Homo sapiens: one gene and its partner. The protein of the gene in region 2 purifies or fractionates together with the protein of the main gene of each other region. This does not show direct contact. Each region holds a gene or a part of one and is shown on either strand. Other genes may lie near its edges.

Region 1 (4,915 bases), on a different chromosome or scaffold from region 2:
GTGGCGCACGTTTGTAATTCCTGCTACTCGGAAGGCTGAGGCGGGAGAATCACTTGGACCCAGGAGGTAGAGTTTGCAGTGAGCCAAGATTGAGCCACTGCACTCCAGCCTGGGCCATAGAGCGAGACTCTATCTCAAAAAAAAAAAAAAAAAAAAAATTTATGAAACAAACATGGAAAACAAAAACAGCTATTTTTAAGACTTTTTTTTTTTTTTGGAGAGAGTCTTGCTCTGTCGCCCCAGGCTGGAGTGCAGTGGCACGATCTTGGCTCACTGCAGCCTCAACTTCCTCAAGTTGAGGCTCAAGGGCTCAAGTGATCCTCCCACCTCAGCCTCCTGAGTAGCTGGGACCACAGGTACATACCCCATGCCCAACTAATTTTTGTATTTTTAGTAGAGATGGGGTTTCACCATGTTTCCCAGGCTGGTCTCGAACTCCTGAGCTCAAGCAGTTCACCTGCCTCAGCCTCCCCAAGTGCTGGGATTATAGATGTGAGTCACTATGCCCAGCTTAAGACATCATTTTTAAAAGTGACAAAAAGCTGTCTTAATAAATCTCTTTTCTACTTAGTAAGCAACCAATAAAAACTCTCAGTTCAATGAAAGCAACTTGTCCTTATGGCAAAAGTTGATTAGAAAAAAATAAGCAGTCTGGGCAACATGGCAAGACCTCATCTGCACTAAAAACAAAAAAAATTAGCTGGGCATGGTGGCATGCACCTGTAGTCCCAGCTCCTGGGGGCTGAGGTGGGAGGATCAGTTGAGCCTGAGAAGCAGAGGTTGCAGTGAGCCAAGATCGTATCACTGCACTCTAGCCTGGGCAACAGAGCAAGACCCTGTCTCAAAAAATAAAATAAAATAAAATAAAAAGTAAATTGGCCGGGCGCAGTGGCTCACGCCTATAATCCCAGCACTTTGGGAGGCTGAGGCGGGCGGATCACGAGGTCAGGAGATCGAGACCATCCTGGCTAACATGTTGAAACCCCGTCTCTACTAAAAATACAAAAAAATTAGCGGGGCGTGGTGGCGGGCACCTGTAGTCCCAGCTACTCAGGAGGCTGAGGCAGGAGAATGGCATGAACCCGGGAGGCGGAGCTTGCAGTGAGCTGAGATCACGCCACTGCACTCCAGCCGAGCCAGGCAGATCACCTGAGGTCAGGTGTTCAAGAACAGCCTATCCAACACGGTGAAACCCTGTCTCTATTAAAAATACAAAAACTAGCTGGGTGTGGTGGCGGGCACCTGTAATCCTAGCTACTAGGGAGGCTGAGGCAGGAGAATCACTTGAACCTGGGAGGTGGAGGTTGTAGTGAGCTAAGACTGCACCACTGCACTCCAGCCTGGGCAACAGAGGAAGACTCCGTCTCAAAAAAAACAAAGAAAAAGAAAAAGAGAGGTGAGGTCCCTGTCCTCAGTGAAGGAGCTTACAGCCTATCCTCTGCATTTTGCTTGTAGCTATTGATAGGTAATTCGTCTTTTTTACAGCACTTCCATTAACTAAAGCATATTTCTTTCATATTATTTCTACCTTAAAATAAATTCACACAAGTTAGACTTACTTGAGGCTGGATTCGATGTGAAATATCTGATCATTGTCCGCTGCAGAGAAGGTACTCTCCATAAACAGAATACAAGGACATTTGCAGCTATAATACCTACAAAATAAATATTTATAATTTAGGGAGGTTAAAAATGAAAGCAGGAAAGTCTGATCTACATTACCCCCTTGTAAGATTCTTCCACAATTATGTAAGAGTACTGTATACCTGGGGGATAGGGGGTGAGCCAAAAAAAAGCAAGTGAAATGAATGCTTTTAAAGTATCAGCACTGCCTAGGGTTGGTAAAGTCACAGAATTCCTGGGAAATTGTAAATGCTCTGGGAGCTAACTTCCTTTCCCTAGATCCATATTTTACTTCTTTAGAAGAGCTTACTTTTCTCAATTATAATCAGATCAATAATTTATTGTCTATAATAGCCAAACCAAAGACAGAAGTAATATACAGAATTAGGTTCTTTGGCCAAGAGTAGAAGAGCTAACATTACTTCTTTTTCCTCAGGGCATGGTATGCTTCTTAAACTTACTGCCAGCTTATGGAAACATATGTGAGTCATCTGTGTAGGTGAAGGTCAACATGTCTGAGAAAAATAGTCATGTGATAGGAATTCAGGGATAATTTAGAAAACCTCTGCAACTGCTTCTAAAGTCTGTTTACATGTGGGAGTTGAGTGACTTTCCTTTTTCTGTAAGTGTTGATGTTGTTAGTACTACGAAATTGAGGTTTATTCGATAATATAATTAACTTGTTACATTTTAGATAAGAAATTATTATTGAAAACTACAAACTTCAAAAAATATATTAATTTTATGAATTGCCACAACTCCTTCACATAGCAGGTATTCCTCTACTTGTTGAATTAAAATAAACATTTGTCATTCCTCCAGTCTCTGTAGGCAACAGGCAAGTAGCACTTTCACCTTCTTCGATGCCAATAAGGACTGATTTCAATAACATACTGGTAAGAGGATTTACTTTAGAAAACATTCTTTGTCTTGTCCCTGGCAGCTGATCTACATCTCGGTGTTACCTGTGGCTTCCGCAGTTGCTCATTCTGTAAGGTTCTCAGCTAGCCCCTGGCATTTCTAGTCTGTCCAGTTTTTGCTCTCCCACTTGAGAGGTGGGAAAGGAAGCTACATTTTTCACAGATCTTAAGACATTTTTTCCATTTTAATATCTGAAATCAGGATGCATCTTATAACTGGTAGCATTTTTTCTTTCTCCGTAGTACATTAAATAAAATTTTACTGCATTTTGTTGAACTGATTCCATCAGTTGTATCAGATGTCTCACTAGCAGGGACTGTGACAGCATTATACCACCTTTGGTAAATAATTACCCAGAACTCTTTTAAAGATGGTGAGAGGGACAGCATTTATGCAAAGATGGGAAAAGGGATCATACACAAGGCAATGAAGAGCGAAGAGCACTGTGTACACCTCCCAATGTGGAGCCTGGAACCCTGGGAAGGGCAGGCGGGCAGAGCCTCCTCACAGGGACTGGAGTCTTGGGAGGTTTACCCTATAGGAAGAGAGCAGTGATTCGTGTTGCTCTGGATTCCTTAGATTCCTTTGGGAGAGTTAATCATCTTTACTACCCAGAGTGCACCCTTAGGTCTAGGTTGTCATACCCAGTGATTGATATCTTAGGGTAAAGACGACCTGAGAATGGTCTGGCCATGATCATAAAGATCGGATTGCTATGATCATGATCAGTCAGGGCTTTGGTGTTTTATTCTAATTGTGGTTCAAGGCAAAGAGAGCAAGATGGGGTCCCTGATCCTGCCTACTAGGCTGAAAAATGGCAACGACTACTCTGCTTCCTCTGTCAGTTCCATGGGCAACTTCCTCAAACCACAGACACACAGCACACCCAGCTTCTGGAAACCACAGGCACCACAGCACTGTCAAGACGAGGATATGTTTCTGGATAAAGTGATTAAAATAAAGGAAAATACATGAAAAAAAATGAAAGATAAAGGCCGGGTGCGGTGGCTCACGTCTGTAATCCCAGCAGTACTTTGGGAGGCTGAGGCGGACGGATCACCTGAGGTCGGGAGTTCGAGACCAGCCTGACCAACATGAAGAAACCTCGTCTCTACTAAAAATACAAAATTAGCTGGGCGTGGTGGTGCATGCCTGTAGTCCCGGTTACTCAGGAGGCTGAGGCAGGAGAATCACTTGAACCCAGGAGGCGGAGGTTGAGGTGAGCCGAGATCACGCCATTGCACTCCAGCCTGGGCAACAAGAGGGAAACTGTCTCAAAAAAAAAAAAAGCGGGGGGAAAGATAACCAAAGACATTGAGGTTAACAGTAGACAAAGAGTTAACACTGCTAAGTTTTCAATCCAAACGCAAGAAGCTTTTCTGATAAATAATGAGTACTGGCACTGAAACAGACTGTAGCCAAAATCCCTTACTTCATAAGCCAGTGGTCATCAAACTGCTTTCATGGGGCACCCCATTAGTAAACACCATCCATTAGTAACAGACACATCCCATATATGTATACTTATTAACAAATTATGTACGTGAACCACTATAAATTCATAAGACACACTTAACAAATTTAAAAGAAATAAGAAAAGTGAAATGCACATACTTTCTTCTTTGTAAACCCTATTCTGAAGGCCAGTTATAGATGAGAAAAACAGGCTCTAAAAGGTACAAGTTGTCAGAGGGCCAAATTCAGTGGCCAAGCCAGAATTCCTAATCTAGTGCTCTTTCTACTATACATCAAGACATGGGTAGCCAGGAGGATTTATTTTGACCTTGGTCACTCTAGGACTTCAGACACCACATAAAAACGGCTTCCTTGCTGGGAAACAGCATATGCTGGTCCCCAGAAGCGGATGAGCATGAGAGGATGTGTGGCAATCCTAGGCCTACTGAGGCAGTACTGCATTTTGGCTAAAAGTATGGGTGAAGGAGTCCAGCAGAAGTGACTCTGTCCTACTTACATTATAACCTGGGGAAGAGGCCTAACCGCTCAGCTTGTTTCCTCTTCTGTAAAATGAGAATAATAAAATCTACCTGAAAGGGTTGAACGGGCCGGGTGTGGTGGCTCACGCCTATAATCCTAGCACTTTGGGAGGTCCAGGCAGGAGGATCCATCCCTTGAGCCTAGAAATTTGAGACCACCCTGGGCAACATAGTGAGACCTCCTCTTTACAAAAAAATGAACAAAATCAGCTGGGCATGGTGGCACATGCTTGGGTCCTAGCTATTTGGGAGGCTAAGGTGGGAGGATTGCTTGAGCCCAGGAGGTCAAGTCTGCAGTGAGCCAAAATTGCACCACTGTACTCCAGTCTGGGCGACAGAGGGAGACCCTGTCTCAAAATAAATAAATAAATAAATAA
Region 2 (4,915 bases):
CCAGACTCAGGCACTCACTGAGGCAGGATCTGGTAGAGCAGGGCCTCAGCCTTGCGCTTCTCCTCCAGGTATGCCTGGGTCCGCTCCTCCACCAGTTCCTCCAGATTGTTCGCGTACTGCTCCATGCGGGACAGCAGGTTGTCCAGGATGTTGCTGCTGTTCTCCCTGGGGGCAGAGGGTGGCGGTGGGGGTGGTAAGAGAGGAGCAGCACAGCCTACCGTGAGCGCCCGCCCCTAGGCACTTCCCCCTCCAGACTGCAGTGAGGTCTCTAGAGACGCTCAGGGTTGAGGGCATAGCAGGATACCGGGGAGCAGGGGAAAACAGAAGGAAGAAAGTTCAATTCTTTTCTGAGACCCCAAGGTCAAGTATGAAGCTTCAGACATATGGACATTTTGTTCATCTTTGTTGAACCCAGTGAGTTAGAAGGAGGTAAAGGAGGTGGAGAATGACAAGGGTCAATTGCGGACAAAGTGATGTCCACAGAAGGGTGTGTCTGGAGGAACTGGGCCTGGTGGGCACGCTGGGGAAGGGAAATCAAGGGGTGGGGCAGGAGCTCCCGTGGAGGGCCAAGAGCCTACAGGGCAGGAGGCGGGAGGCCCATCTATCCTACACACTGCTGAGAAGTCTAGAGGCCAGCAAGGCGAGTGGGCAGGAAGGGTGTGGGGTGTCGATGGTGGAGGGAAGGGGCATGAATGGCAGGGGACTGTGGGGACAGCTGAGTCATGCTGTACTTGCGAAGAGGGTCATGAGGCTGTGCTGAGCTGGAGCTGACTATGTACAGGGAGGAGGTGAGTGGTCTCCCTCTGCCACTGCTGGGATAAGCCAGAGCCAGAAGCATTAGGTAAATGGTGGCTGTGGAGGAAGGGCCTGGGGGATCCATGACAAACACCAGGGACCTGTTAAATTTGCGCAACGTCAGGCGGATCTGCTGGAATGGTGGCCTCTCCTGTGGGTCCTCAGCCCAGCACCGCTGCATGAGCAGCCCCAACTCCTCCAGGTGACTCTGCAGGGCCAGGGAGGGCCGGAAGGGGGGCTGCTCACCCCGAGTCACCCGCTCGATGATCTCTGTATTGGGGGGGTAGAGGAGCTGAGGGGTGGGGCTGGCCAAGGGCCTAGTGAGAGACTGGGGCAACCAGCTGAGATGGCAGGGGAAGTCCAAGACCAAGGCATGGGGGCGGGGGACTGGTCACTGGCAGCAATGGGTCAAAGGGTGGTGACTGAACCCCATTACAGAAGGAAGGTGTGGTGGTGCTGCCAGGGGACCCTCTCCCTGGGGCTGGGGTTCGTTGAGACTGTGGCTGGGTTTAAGGAAGGTGTGCTCCTCTCACCTTTGGGGCTCAGGTCCAAACCTTCCACGTGGAAGACCCCACTCCTCAGGGCAATCTCCTGAAGGATGATCCCAAAGCTGTATACGTCACCAGCCTGGGAGCCCCGCACAGGGGGTGAAGCCATTCGCAGGAGCTCAGGGGCCGTCCACAGCTTTTCTGTGGGTCAGAGGTCGGTAGTCACCGAGTGAGGGAGCCCAAAGCTAAGGGGTGAGGGGGAAACAAGGGTGTGGCCGAAACTGATCTGGATGCATCACAGAGTGTTAGAGCTAGAGGAGGCCTTAGAAACCACTTCGTCTGGCCTTCCCTTTTTCATGGGTGAATGAATTGAGGCTGGAGTCAGGACAAGCATGCCCAAGCCCATCAGAGGCCTTGCATCAGTCTCCCTACTGGGTGGTGCTGGGGGCAGGTGTTAGGTTCAAGAGTCAAGGCTCACTGGCATAAACGGTGTGTCCTTGCTCTGGGTCCAGGTCCCTGAAGCTCTCCAGCCCATAGTCGGTGATCTTGAGCACAAAGCGCCCATCTACCACGCAGTTGGATGACTTGAGGTTCCCATGGGAACAGATAGCCCCATTGTGTAGAAACAGCATGCCCTGGAAATGTGAGTGGGCAGAGGTATTGGCCAGGAGTGGGACCTACACCCGTGGCCAGGAGAAGCATGCCTGGCCCCTGCTCTACACATCCAATAGGTGCTTAGGGGCATACCTTGACGATGTCATTGGTGAGTGAGTACCGGAACATCCAGTCCAGGGTGATGCTCTCATTCTCCAGAATGTCCTGCTGGGGCAATAAGAGTCAGACCAATCCCCTGCAGATCCCCCTGGGAGTTGGAGGAGGGTGCAGGGTCCTACTGATGTGAACTGGTAGAACAGGACAAAACTTTGGATTGACTCTAGTGCCACTGCCCTTCCCCAACTCCCATTTTTACAGATGGGGCCAGAAAGGTCAGAAAGAGGGCGAGGCATGCCTGGGGTCTTATGGCCAGTCAGGGGCAGAGCCAGGGCTAGAACCCAGGTTTCTTGACACCCCTTGTCCCCCTCACCTGCAGGCTCCCACGGGGACAGTACTCTGTGAGGATGCAGATATTGGGGGGGTCGGTGCAGGCTCCCACAAACCTGGTCAGGTGTTCATTCTGCACATCCCGCATCTGCAAGTGGGACCAGCATCAGGAGCTTGACAGAGACCTCGCTCCTCACCAAGCTGCTCACTAGCTTCAGGGACCCTCACTCTTCTTAACTCCTTATTCACTTTCTGCAACCATCACTAAGATCTTCCCTGGTGATTCCCACCCATGTCCTTTAGCCCACCCTCCCCAGAATCTGCTCCTACTCCCTCTGCATCCTAAGCCCTCTCTCCCCCAGGGACATCACATATGGCCCCTCAAGATTCCTCCAGGTTATCTCCAGTGGTCTCTTCTCCTAGCTTAGGATACCCCCACTCCCACCCACAAGATGAAGGTCCATCCCAGGGCTCCAGTCCCTGCCCCTTTCTTGGGGTACCCTGAGGTCCCTCCATAACTAGTTCTGTTGGCCAGTCTCCCTTGCGTCCCCGAGGGCCCCTTCTCCATGCCACTGCCTCACTCCCCACATTACATGCTTCAGTTCAAACAGGACTTTTCGTGTCAGCTCAATGCGTTTACGGTTCACACGTTTCACAGCCACGAGGTTGCCCTGGGCATGGAATGGAGACTGTCACTGTGAAGAGCATGGTCCCATGTCCTGGGAATTCCAGCTGCTCCCGACAGCCCATCCCTGCCCTCAGGACCCTCACTTGTTCCCAATAGCCCACCCCCAGGGCCCCCATCTGCTGCTCCCCACCAGCTTACTCCTTCCCTCAGAACCCCCCACCAGTCCTCCATCAGAGTACACTCCTGCCCCAGTCCCAAGGCCCAGTGATCTTTCCCCAGGCCCACCTTATAATATGCTGTCTTGGCAAAGACTTGGAACTGGCCCTCTGTGGTTAGCAGGGAGCCGTAATTGGAGCCTCTCTGAAAGGAGGGAGAGCAGGAGGAATGGTCAGCCGGTGGGCCCAGTCTGCATCCTGATTGCTTGTGCTCTGGTCTTTATTTCCCTGCCTTATCCTGCCTTATCTTTGTGTCACCCTTCCTTTTTGTTGTTGGGTTTTTTTTTGAGATGTAGTATCATTGTGTCATCCAGGCTGGAGTGCAGTGGTGCTATCCTAGGTCACTGCCGCCTCAGACTCCTGGGCTCAGATGATCCTTTCACCTCAGCCTCCAGAGTAGCTGGGACTACAGGTATGCGCCACCATGCCCTGCTAATCTTTGTATTCTTTGTAGAGACGATGTCTTGCTCTGTTGCCCAGGCTGGTCTTGAACTCCCAGGCACAAGCAATCCTCCTGCCTCGGTCTCCCAAAGTGCTGGGATTGCAGATGTGAGCCACTGTGCCTGGCCCACCCTGCTTTATGTTCCACATCATAAAATTTCCTCCTCATTTACTTTTTTTTTTTTTAAAGTGTTTTCACAGGTACTATCTCCTCTGACCTTTAAAAGAGCCCTGTGAGGGAGGCTCTGCTGCTGTAATCATCATCTGAGACAGTCTCGGAGAGGGACTATGAGTCGCTCAAGGTCACACAGCAAGTGAAAGCAGAGCTGGGACTAGAATCCTGCTCCCTTACCTATCCCTCAGGCACTGCCCCTTGTACCCACCTCTCCTTTATTGCCCCCCAACACAAACACCAGCGTTCTTACCCCGCTCAGGGTCAGCCGGCTGCCTGCACTCCGCAGGTGCCTCTCAAGGCTACTGGGCTCAACGTCCTCCCAGCGCACCCGCCACAGCTCCGAGGCCAGTTCCTTCTCCAGCTGCATCTTCCTGGGATACGAAGGCTGCATCTGAGCCTGTGGCTGAGCCGCTGACCCAGGGCAGGGTGCTCAGCAGCCCCTCCTCAGAGCCGTGGGACCACACCATGCACTCAGAGATGGAGGGGGAATTCTATCCTCTGGACTGAGAATCAGGATGGCTGGGGGAAATTCTGCCTTACTGGGGACCTTGGGGGAATCACCTCAATGTCCTTACTTGGGAATGAGGCCGCAATATCTATTTCATTCTTAACTATTATAAGAATGAAAAGAAATAGTGAACATGAGGCCAGGCACAGTGGCTCATGCCTGTAATCCCAGCACTTTGGGAGGCCAAGGTGGGTGGATCATGAGGTCAAGAGATCGAGACCATCCTGGCCAACATGGTGAAACCCTGTCTCTACTAAAAATACAAAAATTAGCTGAGCGTGGTGGCATGTGCCTGTAGTCCCAGCTACATGGGAGGCTGAGGCAGGAGAATTGCTTGAAACTGGGAGGCGGAGGTTGCAGTGAGCCTAGATCATGCCACTGCACTCCAGTCTGGCAACAGAGCGAGACTCCGTCTCAAAAAAAAAAAAAAAAAAAAAAAAGAAAGAAAGAAATAGTGTACGTGGAAGTGCCTGGCACACATTATATGCTCAACCAGCAGTGATTTTTCTCCCCTCCCTCCTTGCTTTTGTATATCATTAACTCCTCCTGTACTTCATTTTAGCCTCCACTGGACGGCAGGAACAAGGCTCATTCAGCTCCCTTCTCCATTCTAGGTTGGGCACC

The links. The genes of interacting proteins can lie anywhere in the genome.
Region 1: the proteins of NPR1 (region 2) and PARL purify together in Homo sapiens (affinity purification with western blotting; one study listed by BioGRID). This does not show direct contact.

Annotation. Positions count from the first base shown.
Region 1 is NC_000003.12:183,842,672-183,847,586, forward strand, and holds part of PARL (presenilin-associated rhomboid-like protein, mitochondrial isoform 1 precursor), read right to left. Parts: intron 1,656-4,915; coding exon 1,560-1,655; intron 1-1,559. UniProt on the Homo sapiens protein: Required for the control of apoptosis during postnatal growth. Essential for proteolytic processing of an antiapoptotic form of OPA1 which prevents the release of mitochondrial cytochrome c in response to intrinsic apoptotic signals.
Region 2 is NC_000001.11:153,684,203-153,689,117, reverse strand, and holds part of NPR1 (atrial natriuretic peptide receptor 1 precursor), read right to left. Parts: intron 4,155-4,915; coding exon 4,034-4,154; intron 3,313-4,033; coding exon 3,238-3,312; intron 2,996-3,237; coding exon 2,918-2,995; intron 2,473-2,917; coding exon 2,368-2,472; intron 2,103-2,367; coding exon 2,031-2,102; intron 1,919-2,030; coding exon 1,762-1,918; intron 1,529-1,761; coding exon of another isoform or gene 1,506-1,528; exon of another isoform or gene 1,485-1,505; coding exon 1,329-1,484; intron 1,066-1,328; coding exon 897-1,065; intron 166-896; coding exon 19-165; intron 1-18. UniProt on the Homo sapiens protein: Receptor for the atrial natriuretic peptide NPPA/ANP and the brain natriuretic peptide NPPB/BNP which are potent vasoactive hormones playing a key role in cardiovascular homeostasis.